Homo sapiens: one gene and its partners. The protein of the gene in region 1 purifies or fractionates together with the protein of each later gene. This does not show direct contact. Each region holds a gene or a part of one and is shown in the gene's direction. Other genes may lie near its edges.

What was found.
Region 2: the proteins of PMM1 (region 1) and DSG4 purify together in Homo sapiens (affinity purification with mass spectrometry; 3 studies listed by BioGRID and IntAct, with this or other methods). This does not show direct contact.
Region 3: the proteins of PMM1 (region 1) and POTEE purify together in Homo sapiens (affinity purification with mass spectrometry; 3 studies listed by BioGRID and IntAct, with this or other methods). This does not show direct contact.
Region 4: the proteins of PMM1 (region 1) and QRICH1 purify together in Homo sapiens (affinity purification with mass spectrometry; 3 studies listed by BioGRID and IntAct, with this or other methods). This does not show direct contact.
Region 5: the proteins of PMM1 (region 1) and VPS33A purify together in Homo sapiens (affinity purification with mass spectrometry; one large-scale study listed by BioGRID and IntAct). This does not show direct contact.
Region 6: the proteins of PMM1 (region 1) and E2F3 purify together in Homo sapiens (pull-down; one large-scale study listed by IntAct). This does not show direct contact.

The regions. Positions count from the first base shown.
Region 1 is NC_000022.11:41,583,341-41,586,840, reverse strand, and holds part of PMM1 (phosphomannomutase 1), read left to right. Parts: intron 1-647; coding exon 648-765; intron 766-2,237; coding exon 2,238-2,314; intron 2,315-2,468; coding exon 2,469-2,560; intron 2,561-2,782; coding exon 2,783-2,882; intron 2,883-3,500. UniProt on the Homo sapiens protein: Involved in the synthesis of the GDP-mannose and dolichol-phosphate-mannose required for a number of critical mannosyl transfer reactions. In addition, may be responsible for the degradation of glucose-1,6-bisphosphate in ischemic brain.
Region 2 is NC_000018.10:31,386,777-31,390,276, forward strand, and holds part of DSG4 (desmoglein-4 isoform 2 preproprotein), read left to right. Parts: coding exon 1-43; intron 44-1,590; coding exon 1,591-1,746; intron 1,747-2,097; coding exon 2,098-2,242; intron 2,243-3,500.
Region 3 is NC_000002.12:131,212,536-131,216,035, forward strand, and holds part of POTEE (POTE ankyrin domain family member E), read left to right. Parts: intron 1-3,500.
Region 4 is NC_000003.12:49,045,572-49,049,071, reverse strand, and holds part of QRICH1 (transcriptional regulator QRICH1), read left to right. Parts: intron 1-1,825; coding exon 1,826-2,003; intron 2,004-2,492; coding exon 2,493-2,647; intron 2,648-3,500. UniProt on the Homo sapiens protein: Transcriptional regulator that acts as a mediator of the integrated stress response (ISR) through transcriptional control of protein homeostasis under conditions of ER stress.
Region 5 is NC_000012.12:122,256,495-122,259,994, reverse strand, and holds part of VPS33A (vacuolar protein sorting-associated protein 33A), read left to right. Parts: intron 1-3,500.
Region 6 is NC_000006.12:20,474,879-20,478,378, forward strand, and holds part of E2F3 (transcription factor E2F3), read left to right. Parts: intron 1-3,500.

The DNA.
Region 1 (3,500 bases):
AGCCCATGCCTGGCTAATTTTTAAAAACTTTCGGCCAGGCACGGTGGCTCACGCCTATAATCCCAGCACTTTGGGAGGCCCAGGCGGATGGATCACCTGAAGTCAGGAGTTCAAGACCAGCCTGGCCAACATGGCGAAACCCTGTCTCTACTAAAAATTTAAAACTTAGCTGGGCATGGTGGCAGGCGCCTGTAATCCCAGCTACTCGGGAGGCTGAGGCAGAAGAATCGCTTGAACCCGGGAGGCAGAGGTTGCAGTGAGCTGAGATCACGCCATCGCACTCCAGCCTGGGCAGAGGTTTCAGTGAGCCAGAATCACACCACTGCACTCCAGCCTGGATGACAGAACAAAAATTCGTCTCCAAAAAAATTTTTTTTTTCATAGAGACAATGTCTTCCTTTGCTGCCTAGGCTCTAGTCTCAAACTCCTGGGTCAAGTGATCTTTCTGCCTTGGCCTCGCAAAGTGTTGGGATTGCAGACCTGAGCCACAGTGTCCAACCTGTCTAATTTTTGGTGTCTAAGCTTTGTACTGCTTCAGATCCAGGTAGAATGTGGGCTTCCTGGGTTCTCAGCACTAAGTGAGGGCTAAGTGGAGGTCCCAGACATGTTGAAAGCCAGAATGCTATGCTTCCCCTCTCCCCCCATAGAAAATTGACCCTGAGGTGGCCGCCTTCCTGCAGAAGCTACGAAGTAGAGTGCAGATCGGTGTGGTGGGCGGCTCTGACTACTGTAAGATCGCTGAGCAGCTGGGTGACGGGGATGAAGGTAGGAGTGAGGCTGGGGGTAGAGGGAGTGGGGAGTTTGAGAGATTCCTGGGCGTCTTCAAAGATCCAGTCCTGCTTCTGTGGGGCAGAAGAAATAGAGAGAGAGCAGCCAGATAGTTCCCTTACTGATTTGACAAACACTTGAGCACTTCCTATTGCCAGGGATTGTGCCAGGCCCTTGAGAAATGGCTGGGGCAAAGCAAGCAGAACCTGCCCTTATGCAGTTTACATTCTCATTTCTCCCTGCTGAGTCTTGATTTCCTCATCTTTAAAATGGGCTGAACCAGCCGGCACAGTGGCTTACGCCTGTAATCCCAGCACTTTGGGAGGCCGAGGCGGATGGATCACTTGAGATGAGGAGTTCAAGACCAGCCTGGCCAACATGGTGAAACCCCGTCTCTACTAAAAATACAAAAAATTAGCTGGGTGTGTTGGCACGTGCCTGTAATCCCAGCTACTCGGGAGGCTGAGGCAGGAGAATCGCTTGAACCTGGGAGGCGGAGGTTGCAGTGAGCCAAGATCAGGCCACTGCACTCCAGCCTGGGTGACAGAGTGAGGCTACACATCCAAAAATAAATAAATAAATAAATAAATAAATAAATAAATAAATAAAAGGGCAGAACCAATGATGGCTACCATTTGTCAAAAATGATCATGTGTTAATGTCATTGCATTTGATCCCCACAATCACACTTTAGAGTAGGCGTGATCATCCCATTTAACAGAGGATGACTCTGAAGTTATCCAGGAAATCGACTGGACCTCAGAGCCCCTGGTCTCAGCCCAGTCAAAGTGGGTGCCTCCAGTTCCTCAAGCCAGAAACTTCCTCGAATTTTTCCTTTTCCCCACCTCTTGTTTATTCCATCAGCAAACCCCAAAATATCTCCCTGTCCCCTCTGTCTCCATCTCCACCACGCCATCATAGTCCAGGTAACCACGTGCCACCCAGACCCCGCAACAGCCTCTGGGCTGTGCTCCCTGTGCCTCCCACCTCCCACCCACTCCAACTGCTTCGCCTGGCAGTCAGAGCTGAAACCTCCAACTCTCCCATGCAGCCAGCCTTGAGAACCCAGTGCGATGGCAGCTATAGAACAGAAGGGAGCCCCTCTGCAGAGGGGCAGGGGAGCACAGAGTGGAAATGATGCCCTCTGCCAGAGAGTACTGCATGGCTTCCAGAGGAGGAAGCTGAATCTTGGAGGATGAGTGGCAGGGAAGCCAGGGAAGGGCGGTTCTGACAGAAGGACCTGCATGGATGCCTGTGTGCAGAGGCCCACAGGTGTGACTGGCTTCTTTGGAAGAAAACCAAGCTGCAGAGGGAGAAAGGCTGGAGAAGCAGGTTGTAGCCTCAGATTGAACAAATGGCCTTTGAATGTGAAACCAAGGGTGTAGGCTTCCTCTCTCTTTACTTGCCCGTGGGGTCACAGACGTGGTCTCACACTCTTTCTTCCTCCTGTCCTCTATGTGACCCTGAAGTCATTGAGAAGTTTGATTATGTGTTTGCCGAGAACGGGACGGTGCAGTATAAGCACGGACGACTGCTCTCCAAGCAGGTCAGTGTCCCCCAGGGCTTAGCCAGGGGCACCCCACTTTTCCATAGTGGAGCAGTCCAAGGGGGCTTCTGTCCTGGGCTGGGGGAGAGACACTGTGCCTGTCTCAGGGTCAGGCAGCCCAGGCCACGCTCAGAGCCCTGTGTTCCTTGGCCAGACCATCCAGAACCACCTGGGGGAGGAGCTGCTGCAGGACTTGATCAACTTCTGCCTCAGCTACATGGCCCTGCTCAGGCTGCCCAAGAAGCGGTGAGGTCCCACCAGCCTGGTCTCCAGAACCTGGGGCCTGAGGGAGGAGAAGTGTGGGTCCCTCAGAGGGAACCTGGAGATACTTGGGCCCCTGATTTTTTGCGGGGAGTGTGGATTCTTGTCCCCTTTGAAGTCCTAGGAGGCTGGGGTCCCAGGTGGGGCTAGATTTGAATTCAGGGCCGTTCTGGTTCTCTCTGGCTCCCCGCCCTCCCTCACCACCAGTGGAACCTTCATCGAGTTCCGGAATGGCATGCTGAACATCTCGCCCATCGGCCGGAGCTGCACCCTGGAGGAGAGGATCGAGTTCTCCGAACTGGACAAGGTACCACTAGCTATGCAATCTTAGGCCTGTAGGGCCTCAGTCACTCAATTTATCTGAGCCTTTATTTTCTCATCAGTAAAATAGACTGGGGGATGTGTTCTGATTTAACTGATACCCTTTCAGGCACCTACTGTGTGCCATTGTTGTAGACACACCTGCATCTTTACAATGCTGCTGGTCCCCCTTCCTAGGTGACCAGCACCAGGCAGCCACCCACTGAGCCAGGCCAACACCTGGGAACATCATTTCCACCTTCCCACCCACATCGGGTCCAACAACTCTTATTTCATCAGCCTCTCGAGTCAGTGTCAAATCTGTTCATCTGCAGAACTGAGACCCCACTTTCTAGATTACCCCTTTCCCCAGCCCCAGGCTGCCCCAACTTTCCTCTCTGTCCCTCCCTACCCCTTGCATAGCCCTGCCAGCCTGCTCTCCAGCAATGCCACTGAGAACCTTTCTTTCTTTTTCTTTTTGGAGATAGAGTCTCCAAAAAAATAGATAGAGGCTGGAGTGCAGTGGCATGATCTCAGCTCACTGCAACTCCCACCTCCCGTGTTCAAGCGATTCTCCTGCCTCAGCCTCCCAAGTAGCTGGAATTACAGGCATGCACCACTACAC
Region 2 (3,500 bases), on another chromosome or scaffold:
TCGAGAAGGAGAGGACAACTCGAAGAGGAACCCCATTGCCAAAGTAAGTGATGAAGCAATCTGATGACAAATGCTTTTGCAGAGCAGGGAAGCTTTCAAATATCTCCAAGATTTGCAGGCTTCACTGCTCCACAGTTATTTAAGAAGACAGAATGTGGTCATTTGCTCCAGTTGCTGAGCCACTGATTTGAATATCATGTGCAGGGAGGCTGACGTGGGGCAGGCAGTCAATGGCAAGTGATTCTAGAAGAAAGGGCTGGATCTCCAGCACAACTGGGCTTTGTTCATCCATTTGTGTACTGCTCATTATTGCCTGTCAATGTCATAGGAAACGTATTCACATAGTGACAGTCTGAAGCCTGGCCCTCCAGAAAGTCAAGCCAAGTTTACTGCACTAGATGAATTAACTCCAGGAAAGTAAGGATAGTATCAAAAGTTCCCACCAGATCTCTACATCCAGAAAATAAGAGAGTCTTATAAGACTTTCACAAATAATGCCTACTGAAAAGGAAGGAGAGTTAAAGAATGTGTAATAAATTGATCCAGGAAGGATGGGATCCACATTAATAGCTTCATTCACTCTTTCTGGACATCTTGATCCTGAACAGTAAAGTGATCTGCAGAATTCCCTCCTTCCAGCTTTATATTAAAAACATAGTAAGCATCAGCAGTGGTGTTACAGATACAACCTCAGCTCAAGAAAACAGATGTATTCTCTCTCAGATGTTTTCAAATTGGAGGGACGCTTTTAAATTATTATTTCCATTCAACTCAGTAATTGCTTTATGTTATTCCACTTATATTGCATATTCTTTTCTTTTTCTCTGCATTTTGGGAGGTTCTTGAGTTTTCTTCTATGTAAAAAGGGCCTTTGGATTAGAGTTAAGCTAACCAAAGTTCTATTTCCAGCAGTCTTTATTTGACTGTGAATGTGTGGGTAAAAAATCTTACTATTTTACTGAATGCTCTTATCGTTAGTATATAGGTGAGATTTCAAAATTGTTTCAGTTTAAATTTATCAGCAATAGGTAATAAAGCTACTAAAGCAAAATCTGTGTGGCAGAATATTTGCCATAAAATCTATTTGGCAGAAAAGTGATGCAGTATGTTTACATTTATAAAATTATTACAAATATCTCTAACCATTATAGTTTTCTGATATTCTCAACTTATCTACCATTTTGACTAAATCTCAGACTCCAGCTTAGGTAGGATACTTATTAATATGACACAAGTTATTTTTAAAAAATAGTAAATGTTGTAATTTCTTTTGTGAAGCTATTTCTGCGTATGCTAAAAAATCAGAGAATTGAACAATGTGTTATTAACAACAAACCTAGCACCAAGTGTGTATGTTATACACATTACCTCATGTAATTCCCACAACAAATCTGTGTGATATTATCCCCACTGTAAGCTGATCTGGGCAAAGTTAAGTAAATTTTCCAGGGTCACACAGGACTAAGTCATGGTGTCAGGTTTCAATCCAAAGCCCATTTGGTAAAGAAACCCACTCCCTTCTTATTCCACTACACTCTTAAGCATTATCTGCTCTAAACTGGATCACAATCCTAGCTATTTTTCTTATAGATTCGATCAGACTGCGAATCGAACCAGAAGATAACATACCGGATTTCTGGAGTAGGGATTGATCGACCACCATATGGGGTATTCACCATTAATCCTCGCACTGGGGAAATTAACATCACTTCAGTGGTAGACAGAGAAATAACTCCACTTTTCTTGGTAAGTCATAGCCATATGTTTTGATTTGTTCATATTAGTTTTCTTCCCTTTTTCAAAAAATATTATCTTAAGATAATGGATTACTTTTGATAAAACATGGCAGACTGAACCCAAATAGAAGACTTGAAGGAATGGAAAGAGTGTGAAAATAAAAGTTTATAGTTCAGGATTCTCTGGTATGTTGCATGTACATGTAGTCAAGTGTCCTGATCATATTTAAATTATTTGACTGTACTACAGTCTGAATTCACTGGAAAAAATTGTTTCTTTGCCTATTTTCTGATATATTTTCAAGCATGTTACTAAAATTCCTTTGGTGGAAAAAGATGGCTTTTTTCCAATTTTCCACAGATCTATTGCCGGGCTCTGAATTCACGGGGTGAAGATTTAGAAAGGCCTCTTGAGCTTAGAGTCAAAGTTATGGACATAAATGATAACGCTCCAGTCTTTTCGCAAAGTGTATACACAGCCAGCATTGAAGAAAATAGTGATGCCAGTAAGTAGAATGACATTCCTTCTCTACGTCACAGCATATCTACTTCTCTTGGTCAAAAGCTTTAGAGGACTGACATACAGGAAATGTAAAGGACAGAAAAAGCCACACTTGTATTTTGAATAAACCCCACATATTTTAATTTATAACTGAGCTAGAAAAAGAAATCATGTCTAAAATGATAAAATAAAATATCTTCTTACTTGCGGAAGGTCCCTACAGGGATTTAGCAGGTGCTTAGCACCTTGCTTAAAGATTGCTACTGGGCTCATGAAGAACTAAATCCAAGCGAGCAAACTGAGGAATAAACCAGGAATGTTTAAGAAGGCTCTGTTCTGGTCTCTTACTCAAAATGTTTGGCTGACCCACACCAGGTAGAGCGTGATGGTGGAAGCACACGCAATTGTACCCATCAGATCAATCACTAAGGGTAATCATTGATCTTCACAGACTACATAGCAAACTACATTCTATTCTCTCATTTTCTTTCATTTCTTTCCATTCCACTTAATTCCATTTCCAGTTCTAATACCCTCTGTCTTTCCTTTATATTAATTCTCCTGAACTTCTTTCCTTCCTACTCTTATGCTTTTCTTATATGGCTACTTTCCTATCTCTCCTCTCCCTTTGCCTTCTGACCTTGATTTTACATACAGCACATGAATATCAGTTTGTTCCCCAAACCCCTGTTGTCCCTTTCCCTTTCAAATCTATGTCTGCCCATATACCTCTAAACAAATTTGGGGGGAAATAATAGGAAAAATAAATTTCAGGAAAAAAGGCAGATAAACACAAAATTTTTTTTTGAACTAGGATAGTCCTCCCATAGAGAGGCAAAGAGATTTTGCCTAGGAGAGCCAACACAAAGAGAGACTCCGAAGTCCATCTTTGCTTCCTCATCAACACACCTCAAAACAACACTGGTGAAGGAAGAGAAGGTGAAACCCACAACCAAGTCTCCCTGCCTAGGAAGCAAAAGAACATCAGGGACCTGACAATTCTGAAAAGTCTGTCCTGTAGATTGACATCCTTGGGGATTTGCCTAAGATACCTGTTCTTTCTACCTATGAGTAATTAGGAACTTCTTATATTGCTATGGACAAGTCTTCTTTTCAATAATTATAAATTTGTGACTGTTTGGTAAAATGCTATCTTCCAATGCAACCAAGAGTAATTATCTGCTTTCTGGAAAAGTGGCAATTAAGAATATAGGTGTTCAATACATAATTATAATGTTGCATTTAATTAAACTATAATTTTC
Region 3 (3,500 bases), on another chromosome or scaffold:
CATTTTCTCTGCCACCATTTCCTTTGTTTTCTTTCTTTTTTTTTTTGAGATGGAGTTTTGCTCTTGTTGCCCAGGCTGGAGTGCAATGGGGCGATCTCGGCTCACTGCAACCTCCGCTTCCTGGGTTCAAGCAAGTCTCCTGCCTCAGCCTCCCGAGTAACTGGGATTGCAGGCATGTGCCACCATGCCCAGCTAACTTTGTGTTTTTAATAGAGATGGGTTTTCTCTATGTTGGTCAGGCTGGTCTTGAACTCCCGACTTCAAGTGATCCACCTGTCTCAGCTTCCCAAAGTGCTGGGATTGGAGGTGTGAGCCACCACGCCTGGCTCTCTGCCACCATTTTCAAGAGTATTGCCATCTGCCTGAGCAAACCTGGTTCATCACCACCTCTTTGCAAGAGAAAAAGGAAGTCGGGAGAATTGTGTGTAATTTTTTTTTTTTTGAGATGAAGTCTCGCTCTTGTCCCCCAGGCTGTAGTACGATGGCCCGATCTTGGCTCACTGCAACCCCTGCCTCCTGGGTGAAAGCAGTTCTCCTGCCTTGGCCCCCTGAGTAGCTGGGATTATAGGTGCCTGCCACCACGCCCGGCTAATTTTTGTATTTTTAGTAGAGATGGGGTTTCACCATGTTGGCCAGGCTGGCCTAGAACACCTGACCTCAGGTGATCCACCCACCTCGGTCGGCTGTGTGTATTTTAAGGCAAAGATTCACAACCAAAAACAAGGCTTTATTAACTTTTGTATCTAAGAACCTGCAGTGTCGAGCCCTCTTTTATTCCTAGTATTACTACTTTAGGTGTGAACTTTTTATCTTTATTTTACTGATTCCTCTAGAAGTTTATGCATTTTCTTGACTGCTTTAAAGACAATCTATATTGTATCATTTTTCAAGCCCGTAGAAATGTGTAAGGCCTATAATTTGAACACTTGTTATTTTTAAGGTTATGAGCATGTAATATACCATTGATACATGGAAGAATATGTATAAATACCACTAGATAGGTTATATTGAAGAGATAATATCTAAATTTTTGTCCAGAGTTGATGGGGTGCAGTTTTGTAGGTGTGTTTCTCAATACATTGTGTCCATGTTTTAAAGCATATAGAAATTTGAATACTGTTTAACCTCATATAGTCCTTGTTTATAGGTTTAATATTTCTAAAGACTAAAGACGTCACAGCTCCCTTTAAGATTCAGTAATACTAATAAAATTTGAGATATACAGGGTTAGAGTCCAACAAATTCAAAGGAAAATTGTTGAATTATATAGCCGTAGAGCAGGAATGAAACCCAGGTTCTAAGTTCCAAGGGGGCCATGAGCTACCATACAGGTGCATCAGTGACTGGGCATAGAGTTGGCAAAATTATTTAAGAGAGTGAGCTGTGGATCCTAATTATGTGAACATGAATTTTTGAACTGCATGGTGCCTCAGTTTATCCATCATTACAGTGGGGACAGTAGTAAGTTTTTCTTTTTCTGCTCAGTTGTCTGAATTATTACCCCAGTCTCTCTTGTTGCCACTCTTGATGCCCACATGAGAGGATCTAAGGTAATTTCTGACAACCTGGGACTCCTTAAGGAAAAACAGAAGGTTCCACAAACCCCATTTTAGGAGAAACCTCTGTTTTCCTCATGGAACCCCAAGAACTTTAAGCAGACAGGTCCCTCTCAAAAATCTAAGGCTCTCCTCTGTTTTGCCTTGCGTTGTCTGACCTTTTTGGTTTGGATGGGCATCAGAAATTAGTAGGGGAGAGAGATCTAAAGAAAATTGTGGATATGAAGATGTATTTATTATAAGAAATGTTATGAAGGAAAGAAATGTTATATGAGAGAGGATCTTATATGGCAAATTGTTGTCCTAAAGTAGAATGACTAATTACAAAAGAGGGAAATACAGGACAGGTCAGATAAATTTAATCATGTCGTAGATAGTCTGTGGAAGTTGTGTTATGGTTCATAAAGTGGGAAAGAAAAACTGAACAACTGCTAGATCTTTTCTTGTCTAGAAGTGTTGTGTATGTGATGTATATATAATGGCTCGGCTTAAAAGAAAATGAAAGCTCTTAAATATTTTGTAAGAAAAATAGAAGCTCTAATGCCTTTTATTTCATGTGACTTCAGTAATCTTTGGGAAATAAAGATGGTGTTAAAGTCAGTGGTAAAATAAAAATATCTTCAAAATTTATCCATTTGGTCTAATTTAAGTCAGAGGTTAAGTTTTAGAAGTGCTTTAATGTCATAAATTGATGCTTTGACTTTGGAAAATAGTTTTGTTTACCTGGTTTGGAGCCGTTAGATTTCTAGGTAAGGTCTCCGGACAGGTGGAGTTAGCCATGTCTCCTAGCTATGCTGGAAGGAGTCAGATTTTATCTGCAGTTCTGTCTTGTATCCTAGACTCTGCACCTGGTATGCAATTAAAACTTACTGCTGCTGCTAATCTCTGGGTTCCATTTAAAATCCTTCCATCACATGAATACTATCCCCTGTACTAAATTTTTCCACAATTAAATACTTAGAATCATTTTTGCTGACTTGACCCAACCATTAGTGATATATTTTAAAAATGCTTATAATGTGTCACAATATATTTAGCAAATGTAGGGAATGACATTTTTACTTTCTTCAGCATTTACATAGCATTTATGTAGCAATGCTATCTCAAGTATTTTTAATCATTTAAACGTTAGATAATAGATATGTTTTTGATTCCTTTTTTCTATGTAAATAAATATAATTATGAGATATTTAGTAAATAGTATCAATTGCATATGTCACTTACAGAATATACAATGCAATTAGGATTATTTTTATACACTACATCATATTTACTTGTTGGCTTTACAATAACTTAGAAATAGTATTCTGGATTAACTGTGTGACTCATGAGAGAGGGAGTTTGTGCAATTATAGTCTTTACAAATTTTTACTAGATTTTTCAAGACTTACGCTAGAACTTTGAGAACAAGGTAATAAATAAGCATATCTGTTAATATCACCTTTGGTCAACTCTTGGCTAGACCCAATGATAATGTAGGAATTAACATAATTTTTCTACTAAAGGTGTTGGATTTGTTCCGAGAGACCACAGTTCAAAGTCATTGACAAAGAAAGTTTAAAAATTGTTAGATTAAAACCTTTTAGTGTGTTTGAAATTGTTTTGTAGAAAAATATCCTGGTTTGCATTGATAGGTTTTTTTTTAAATAACAACTAGACCAAGAGAAAGGGAGAGTAGTGATAAATGTCCATGTTTTCGAGTTGAAAAGTAACAATCAGTGTATTACAACAGATGGATTTGATGTCAAATTACAAATGCTGAGAACGTTATATGTAACTGACTTGCCAGAGTAATTATACAAGGCAAAGAAAGGAAAGGCATCTAAATAGGAAGGGAAGGGGTGAGATTGTCTGTGTTTTAGACTCCACAAAAAACCCATTACAGCTGATAAACACTATATTCAATAAAGTTGAGAGTTACAAAATTAACATTGGTTTCCATAC
Region 4 (3,500 bases), on another chromosome or scaffold:
AAATTAGTTGGGCATGGTGGTGCATATCTGTAATCCTAGCTACTCGGGAGGCTGAGAAAGGAGAATCGTTTGAACCTGGGAGGTGAAGGTTGCAGTGAGCCGAGATCGTGCCACTGCACTCCAGCCTAGGCGAAAGAGCAAGACTCCATCTCAGAGGGAAAAAAAAAAAATCACATGGGAAGCTTTTAAAAATACTGACAATGTGCCTCTACCTTACAATGGCTGGAGATAAGGCCCAAGTGTGAGGTTTCTTTCTTTTTTTTTTTTTTTGGTTTTTTTTTTTGTGAACAGAGTCTCACTCTGTTACCCAGGCTGGAGTACAGTGGTGCGATCTCGGCTCACTGCAAGCTCCGCCTCCTGGATTCATGCCATTCTCCTGCCTCAGCCTCCTGAGTAGCTGGGACTACAGGCGCCCGCCACCACACCCGGCTGATTTTTTTGTATTTTAGTAGAGATGGGGTTTCACCGTGTTAGCCAGGATGGTCTCAGTCTCTTGACCTCGTGATCCACCCACCTCGGCCTCCCAAAGTGCTGGGACTACAGGTGTGAGCCACTGCACCCGGCCAGGGTGGGTTTTTTTTTTTTTTTTTTTTTAAAGCAATCCAGATGATTTCAAGGTGAGACCCAGTTTAAGAATCAGTGCTCTCGGCCGATGGCCCAAGCCTGTAGTCCCAGCACTTTGGGAGGCTGAGGAGGGCGGATCACCTGAAGATGGGAGTCAAGACCAGCCTGACCAACATGGAGAAACCCCATCTCTACTAAAAATACAAAATTAGCCGGGCGTGGTGGCACATGCCTGTAATCCTAGCTACTTGGGAGGCTGAGGCAGGAGAATAGCTTGAACCCGGGAGACAGAGGTTGAGGTGAGCCGAGATCCTGCCATTGCACTCCAGCATCCAAGAACAAGAGCGAAACTCTTTCCCCGCCAAAAAAAAAAAAAAGAAAGAAAGAAATGTTGTCTCAGTTCCTACCCTTTTCAATCAGAATATGCATTTTGATAAAATCCCCAAGTGATTTGTTTGCACATTAAAGACTGTGGGAGCAGTGCTTTGAGCCAGTAGTTCTCAGTGGTGACCAAACATTAGAATTACTTTTTTACTTGAGGAGTTTTTTTGTTTTGTTTTGTTTTTTCTTTTTTCTTTTTTCGAGACAGAGTCTCGCTCTATCACCAGGCTGGAGTGCAGTGGTGCAATCTTACTCAAGGAGTTTTTAAACAATTGATACCTTGGCTCCCCCTCAGAGAGATTCTGGGGTAAGTCTGGCTATTAGTGTTTTTAAATAAAAGATTTGACCGGGCACAGTGGTTCACGCCTGTAATCCCAGCACTTTGGGAGACTGAGGCGGGCAGATTACCTGAGGTTGGGAGTTCAAGACCAGCCTGACCAACATGGCGAAACTCCGTCTCGACTAAAATTATAAAATTAGCTGGCCGTGTTGGTGCATGCCTGTAAACCCAGGTACTCGGGAGGCTGAGACAGGAGACTCACTTGAACCCGGGAGGCGGAGGGTGCAGTGAGCTGAGATTGCGCCATTGCACTCCAGCCTGAGCAACAAGAGGAAAACTCCGTCTCAAAAAAAAAAAAAAAAAAAAACATTTAAAAGTGCAGCCAAGGCTGAGAAGCACTGCACTAGCCCAGTTGCAGTGCTGCTTTTGCTGTCCCTGGGGCAAGAGGTAGAACTCCAAAGCTTCTTAAAAGTAGGACAGCAATGAGTAGAGAAATATTTTCTTAAATAAATGAACTATACATAACATTTTTCTGGCAATTTTGCAGAAGGATCTAATATAAAACAATATTGACACATTTTCATGGTTTCTCTCCTATAGGCTCAAACTGTCCAGGTTGCTGAAGTTGAACCACAGTCACAGCCACAGCCTTCCCCAGAACTTCTGCTTCCAAATTCTTTGAAGCCAGAAGAAGGGCTTGAAGTATGGAAAAACTGGGCCCAGACCAAGAATGCTGAACTAGAGAAGGATGCTCAGAACAGATTGGCACCCATTGGGAGTGAGTGTCTTGGAAGAAGAGTGGGCTGTGTCTAAAATGCAATGGTACTAAAGTAACAGGAGGACAAAATGCCAGAAAAGTGGTGTCTCCTGTCTTGGGGACAAGAGAGCAACATCTGTAATAGTATGTTGAATTCAAGCCTAGTAACAAGCAGTACTGACCTTGTGTACATAATAAGCAGGATATGTGGGGTTTGCCCAAAACCAGGCATTTTTAGACATACGGGTTTCAGGAGTTGACCCTACCAGACCTAAGCAGAGTGGCTTCTGGGAGGAAATGGGAACCAGGGATAGGCACTCAAGCCCTTCTTTCTTGGCATTAGGCTCATATACTCATGTTATAGGCCAGTTCTGACATTACAGGCATGAAACATTCTAGTAGATACAAGTGAGCATTTCTATCCCAGCACCCTGATGGGCAGTATCTGTTCTGAGCCTTCCAGATATGGACCCCCAGGACCTTCATTCATTTTTGAGGCTTCCGTTGCAGGGCGCCAACTGCTGCGATTCCAGGAAGATCTCATCTCCTCTGCTGTGGCAGAGTTGAATTATGGGCTCTGTCTAATGACACGGGAAGCTCGAAATGGAGAAGGTGAACCCTATGACCCAGATGTGCTCTACTATATTTTCCTGTGTATTCAAAAGGTAGGAAACAGATCTTCACAAGAACATGTTTGAGCTGTGTTCCTATTGGATGTTTGCTAGTTTAGTTAATAAATTGATAAGCAAGAAGTTAAAATAAGGAAGTTCTCTTTCAGGTATACAGTGAGTTTTAAAATACACATTTGTTGTTTTTTTTTTTTTTTTAAGTTTTAAAAACCTACACGTTCACTTTAGAAAATAACAGCCGGGGCCGGGCGCTGGTGGCTCACGCCTGTAATCCCAGCGCTTTGGGAGGCCGAGGCAGGTGGATCACTTGAGGTCAGGAGTTGAAGACGACCAGCCCAGCCAACATGGTGAAACCCCATCCACTAAAAATAGAAAAATTTGCCAGGTGTGGTGGTGCACTGCCTATAATCCCTGCTATTTGGGAGGCTGAGGCATGAGAATCGCTTGAACCCGGGAGGTAGAGGTTGCAATGAGCTGAGATCACAGCATTTTACTCCAGTCTGGGTGACAGAGCGAGACTCTGTCTCAAAAATTAAAAAAAAAAGAAAAGAAAAGAAAAAAAATAAGAGCCAGGCAAGATGTCTCACACCTGTAATCCCAGCACTTTGGGAGGCTCAAGGCAGGAGGATCGCTTGAGCCCCAGGAGTTTGAGACCAGCCTAGGCAACATAGTGAAACCCCATCTCTACAAAAAATTAGCTGGGTATGGTAATGCATGCCTGTAGTCCCAGCTACTTGGGAGGCTGAGGTGGGAGGATTGCTTGAGCCCCAGAGGTTGGGGCTGTAGTGAGTCATGATTATGTCACTACACTCCAGCCTGGGTGACAGAGTGAGACCCTGTCTGAAAAACGAAAAGAAAAAAAATTAGCTGGGTGTGGTGGCACACACCT
Region 5 (3,500 bases), on another chromosome or scaffold:
AATACCTCACTGCAGCCTTGACCTCCTAGGCTTGAACGAATTTTCAGCCTCAGCCTTTTGAGTAGCTGGAACTACAGGCATGTGCCGCCACACCTGGCTAATTTTTTTTTAATTTCTTTTTTTTTCTATTTTTATTTTTTGGAGAGACAGCGTCTTATTATGTTGTCCAGGCTGGTTTTGAACTTATTCTGGAGATTTTTTAGAAATGAAATTCTATAATACATAAATGGTCCTTTGTGTCTGGCATCTTCACTTAGTGTAATGTTTTGAGGGTTCACCCAGGTTGAAGCCTGCGCGAGGCCTTCATTCCTTCTTATTGCTGAATAGTATTCCATTGTAATGATATTATCATTCATCAGCTGATGGACACCTGATGGGTTGTTTCCACTTTTTGGCTGTCACGATACTGTGAATATTGTGAAAAGTTTTTATGTGGATGTATGGTTTCATTTCTCTTAGATATACCTAGGAGTAGAGACTGGGCGTGGTGGCTCACGCCTGTGATCCTAGCACTTTGGGAGGCTGAGGTGGATGGATCACTTGAGGTTGGGAGTTCAAGACCAGCCTGACCAACATGGAGAAATCCCGTCTCTACTAAAAATACAAAATTAGCCAGGCATGATGGCGCATGCCTGTAATCCCAGCTACTTGGGAGGCTGAGGCGGGAGAATTGCTTGAACCTGGGAGGTGGAGGTTACAGTGAGCTGAGATCACGCCATTGCACTCCAGCCTGGGCAACAAGAGTGAAACTCTGTCTCAAAAATACATACATACATACATACATACATACATACATACATACATACACACATACATACACACACACACACCCCTAGGAGTAGAATTGCTGAGTTGTGGTAACTCTGCATTTAACATTTGGAGGAGCTGCCAAACTCTTTTGCACTGAAGCTGTACCGTTTGTACTCCCAGCAGCAGTGTGGGAGGGTTCCAGTTGTATATCCACATGGACAGACTTATTATTCTGTCTTTTTTTTTTTTTTTTTTTTTGAGATGGATTGTCACTTTGTCACCCAGCCTGGAGTACAGTGGTGCGATCTCGATCTTGGCACACTGCAACCTCGGCCTCCCAGGCTCAAGCAATTCTCCCGCCTCAGCTTCCTGAGTAGATGGGATTACAAGCATGCACCACCACGCCTGGCTAGTTTTTGTATTTTTAGTGGAGATGGGGTTTCGCCATGTTGGTCAGGCTGGTCTTGAACTCCTGACCTCAGGTGATCCACCTATCTCAGCCTCCCAAAGTGCTGCGATTACAGGCGTGAGCCACCATGCCTGGCCTGTTATTCTTTGAATTTAGTCATCCTACTGAGTATGAAGTGGTGTCTCATTGTAGTTTTTATTTGCATTTCCATAATGACTAAGGATGTTGATCATCTTTTCTTGTGCCTGTTGGCCTTTGTCTTCAGCTAAACAAATGTCTGTTCAGATCACTTGCCCATTTTTAAAATTGGGTTCTGTCATTTTTATTACAGAATTGTAAGAATTCTTAATAGATTCTAAATGCAAGTCTCTCCTCAGATACATGATTTCCAAGTATTTTCTTTTGTTCTGTGAGTTCTTTTCACTTTCTTGGTGAGATTGGTGTCGTTCGATGCACTAAAGTTTTAAATTTTGGTGAAGTCTCTTTTATCCAGTTTTTCTCTTGTTACTTGTGCTTTCAGTATCATCTCTGAGAAGCCATTGCCTACCCCAGGATCACAAAGATTCACTCTGATGTTTCCTTCTAAGAGTTCTATAATTTTTTATTTTTTAAAGAGACAGGTCTCACTATGTTGCCCAGGCTGGTCTCACACTCCTGAGCTCAGGCAATCCTCCCGCCTCAGCCTCCCAAAGTGCTGGGATTACAGGTGTGACCCACCGCGCCCAGCTTATAATTTTTCTACATCTTATGTTTAGGTCTTCAACCCATTTTAAGTTAATTCTGTATGTAATGCAAGGTGGGTGTCCAAATTTCATTTTTTACACATGGATATCTATTTGTTCCAGCACTATTTGTTGAAAAGACTGTATTTTCCTCATTGAATTGTTTTGGTACCCTTGTCAAAAATCAATTGTCCACAAATGTAAGGGTCTGTTTTTGGTCTTTTAGTTCTGTTTCACTGATCTATATGTCTGTATGTCCGTCCTTATGCCAGTACTACACTGTCTTGATTACAGTAGCTTTGCCATAAGCTTTGAAATCAGAAGTGTGAGTCCTTCACCCTAAAGCAGGTAAATATATCACTTTTGTTCTTTTAGATTGTGCTTTTTGAGTCTTCATAAATCTTCCACTCTGCAGACAAAGAAGAAAATCTTTTTTTTTTTGAGATGGAGTCTCACACTGTCACCCAGGCTGGAGTGCACTGGTGTAATCTCAGCTCACTGCAACCTTCACCTCCCAGGTTCAAGCAGTTCTCCTGCCTCAGCCTCCCAAGTAACTAGGATTACAGGCACACACCACCACGCCCAGCTAATTTTTTTGTGTATTAGTAGAGACGGGGTTTCACCGTGTTGTCCAGCCTCCTGAGCTTCCACCTGCGCCCGGCCCTTTTTTTTTTTTTTTTTTTTTTTGAGGCAGAGTCTCACTCTGTTGCCCAGGCTGGAGTGCAGTGGCACAGTCTCGACTCACTGCAACCTCCGCCTTCTGGGTTCAAGCAGTTCTCTTGCCTCAGCCTCTCAAGTAGCTGGGATTACAGGCATCCACCACCACGCCCGCCTAATTTTTGTATTTTTAGTAGAGACGGGATTTTACCATGTTGCCCAGACTGATCTCGATGTCCTGACCTCAGATGATCCACCTGCCTCGGCCTCTGAAAGTGCTGGAATTACAGGCGTGAGCCACTGTGCCTGGCCTGAAGCTACTTTTTACCCCAGTTCTCAGACTGCCCCTTATCCCAGAAGCAATCACTATTTCTCTTTTAATTTGGGGTGGGGGGATATTATATGCAGCTACAGCTCATAGTATATAATCCCTCCCCACTTTTGTACAAGTAGTAGCATATGATATATATACTTTGGTATGTTGCGTTATTCTCTTAATAATATCTCTGAGTCATTTTCTACCACGTATGGCAATACTTGTTTATTCTCATTTGAAGCTGCATAGAGTTCCATTGTTTGGATGTACATAATGTATTAAATCAGCTTTCTGTTGGAGAGCATTTTTTTCCTCTCTACGCTGTTGGAGGCAGTGCTGCCGAGAATGAGCCTGTTTGTAGGCCCCTCTGCACATGCGCCCTTTGTAGGCTGCGTTCGCCTTTGTCATTTCTTTTGACATTGCTTCTGGTAATTTTGGCTGTGTGTATGTTTTTAACATAATCACACTTACCCATGTTTCTTTGATTTATGAGTTTATGATGCTGCTGCTGCTGGTGCCGCTGCTGCTGCTCTGGAGACTAGAACTTTTTTTTTTTTAATTGTTTTTGAGACAGATTCTCACTCAGTCACCCAGGCTGGGATGCAGTGGCACAATCTCGTCTCACCGCAACTTCCACCTCCCCAGT
Region 6 (3,500 bases), on another chromosome or scaffold:
TCAACAGGGGAGGAAAAATAACAGGATAACCCAACGGGAACCTCCCTTCTGAAAAGGGGAAATGACATAAAGTGCTCACCTCCTGCTTCTTGTCATGTCCTCCACAGGGACAGCAGTTTGTAGAGCCTATAAGTCCACCCCAAGTTCCACCTCCTGGGAGGAATTCTGGGGCTGCCCCTTCTTCACACCTCACTTATTTCTGGCGTGGCTTTTGGACCTAGTGATTGATTTCCTTAGAGGTTCAACATCATGGACCTTCACTTTCTAGACTTAGTGATTCTTTCGCAATAAAAGTGCCTTGCAATTTTAGTAGCTTGTCCATCTAGCATTCAAATTTGGTCAATTTATGGTTTGGTGCTTAGTAACGAGAGTTACACATGAAGACTAGTCCCGGTCTTTCGAAGTTAAGTCTCAGTCACTTAGCAGCAGACATGGAAATTTCCCTAACCTACAGTTTAATGGTTCCATAGGCCTTTGCCTCATGGCAGTCTGAAACAGCAGCCTGGGAGGGAGAGATAAAACTAGTATGCCCCCAGCCTGCTGACCAGTGGGTGGTTCTTTACTGCTGAGGCACGGCCCTAGGTCCCTAGGAGTTCTGGGTCCCAGACTCTTTTCCAAGTTTGCCTTCTTTCTGTTCACTTTATTTTCATTTTTTGAGACAAGAGTCTTTCTCTGTCATCCAGGCTGGATTGCGGAGGCACCAACCTCCACCTCCCAGGTTCAAGCAATTCTCATGCCCCAGCCTCCCAAGTAACTGGAACTACAGGTGCATGCTACCATGCTGGGCTACTTTTTGTATTTTTAGTAGAGTTAGGGTTTCACCAGGCTGGTCTCAAACTCCTGACCTCAGGTGATCTGCCTACCTCGGCCTCTCAAAGTGCTGGGATTACAGGCGTGAGCCATTGTGCCCAGCCCATTTGTTGACTTTAATTTGGGCAGAGAATACAGCTCTATGTCTCCTTAGATTGCTTTCTGTAGAGAAGGCCTCCATAGCAAAGCTGTTTTCTTTGAGGCGGGCCAGCCTCAGATGAAGTTTCTCTCTATCTGTAGTATCTTCCTGGCGGTCACAAGAAGTGACCAACACACTCTGCCACTCTCTAACAAGGCCTGCCAACTCCCTGTCACACCATAGCCATCTTGACTCAGCCAGTTCCATAAGCTGTCACTGGCAACAGCACAATTCTAGGTTCCCGACTCAAAACACTTGAAGCAGCTGGGCACGGTGGCTCACGCCTGTAATCCCAGCACTTGAGGAGGCCGAGGAAGGCGGATCACGAGGTCAGGAGATCAAGAAGATCCTGGCTAACATGGTGAAACCCCGTCTCTACTAAAACTACAAAAAATTAGCCGGGCGTGGTGGCGGACGCCTGTAGTCCCAGCTACTCGAGAGGCTGAGGCAGGAGAATGGCATGAACCCGGGAGGCGGAGCTTGCAATAAGTTGAAATTGCACCACTGCACTCCAGCCTGGGTGACAGAGCGAGACTCCGGGTCTCAAAAAAAAAAAATGCTTTAAGCAAAAAGGAGAGTTTATTGGCTAATGTAACTGGAAAGTCTGGGAAAGACCAACAGTTGCCCCCAGGGCATGACCAGAGCCAGAGTTTTGAGTGGTGGTCTCAGACCCCTCTCTCTCCTTCTCTCCACTCTGCTTTCCCCTGGGAAGGCCCCATTCTCAGGCAGCTTTAGGCTCCTCACTTACCAACCTTACTGGAAAGACATACCTGCTTCTTGCCAGATAGTTCCAGAAACATTCCTGGGGTTAGCCTTTGCTCCTCCAGCCTTGGTCATAAGCCATTCAACCTGTTCGCGGTGGGGGCGGGGAGGGCAGGATGGGCCACAATGATTAGCCAGGCCTGGATCACCTGTGTGCACAGATGCGCTTAGACCAGGAAAGGGATGGCTCCCCAAGGAACAAACAGGGAGCTTCTGCCTGATAAAGAGTGAATGTTTGCTGGACCAACCACAGCAGGCCCACACAAGGACTTGACAGAATGGCTGGGAGGGGAAGATGAAGTCCAGCAAGCAGATTGTCCTTCCGGAGCCATTAGAATGATGTTTAACTTAGCACTGCAGTAGAAAGATAAGGTGTGCCACTGAGGCAAGCCACATCGTAAAATATATATATAAAGAAACAGATGAAATAATTTTAATGCTACATCTGACCCATTAACAACATTGGGGTTAGAGGTGCCCTGACACAGTCAAAAATTTAGATAGATCTTTTGACTCCCCTAAACTTAACTAATAGCCTGTTGTTTGGGGTTTTCATTATTATTTTAGTGATGGGGGGTCTTGCTACGTTGATCAGGCTGGTCTTGAACTCTTGGCCTCAAGTCATCCTCCTGAGTAGCTGGGATTACAGGTGTGATCCATGCACCCAGCCCTAATAGCCTACTGTTGACTAGAAGCCTTACCAATAACATAAACAGTCATTAACACATTTCATATGGTATATGTATTATATACTGTATTCTTACAATGAAGTTAGAGAGGAAATGTTATCAATAAAAGAAAGTTTGGAATGAATGAAAGTGGAATCCACAGGATAGATTTCCCTCATCAGCCAAGCAGGACTAGAGGTGAGGGTGTGTGAAATAGGCCGTGCTGGGCAGAGCTGGGCTTTGCCTGAGTGTCTTACTCTTTTCCCTTATGATCTAAAGCCAGGTTTCTCCAACTTTAAGGTGTATCAGAATCACCTGGAAGGCCTGTTAGATTGCTCAGCCCCATTCCCAGAGTTTCTGATCCAATGCATCTTAGGTATGCTCTGGAATTTGCGTTTCCTAGCAGCTGAACTTGGTCCAGGGTTCAAAGTGTAGAAGGCATATGGGCATATAAAGCAGCTGGATGAAAAAAAAATCATAAGGAAGAGAAAATAGATTTACTATTCATTACTGGAAGTGGATCATCATAAAATTCATCCTCGTTATCTTCACATTGAGGAAGGTGTGGTGAAAGAAAAGAGGAGGGGTTGGTCTTACTGTCTCAGGGATGACAGAGGAAGAAGAAAACCCACATATAGGTGGACACACTCATGGCCGGGTGCAGTGGCTCACGGCTGTAATCCCAGCACTTTGGGAGGATGAGGCAGGAGGATCACTTGAGCCCAAGAGTTCAACACCAGCCTGGGCAACATACAGAGGCCCCATCTCTACCCAAAAAAAAAAAAATTTAAATTAGCCAGACATCATGGTGTGCACCTGTGGTCCCATCTACTCAGGAGGCTGAGATGGGAGGATTCCTTGAGCCTGGGAGGACAAGGTTGCAGTGAGCTGAGATCACACCACTGCACTCCAGCCTGGGCGGCAGAGCAAGACCCTGTCTCTAAAAAAATAAAATCAGTGGAAACGGACAGTCCAAACCCATGTTGTTCAAGGGTCAGTTGTATTTTATTTATTTCATTTAACATGTGATCACTACTAAAATTGTTGAGATATTTTACCCTGTTTTGTACTAAGTCTTCGAAATTCAGTGTGTATTTTACAATTATAGCACATGTCAGTTT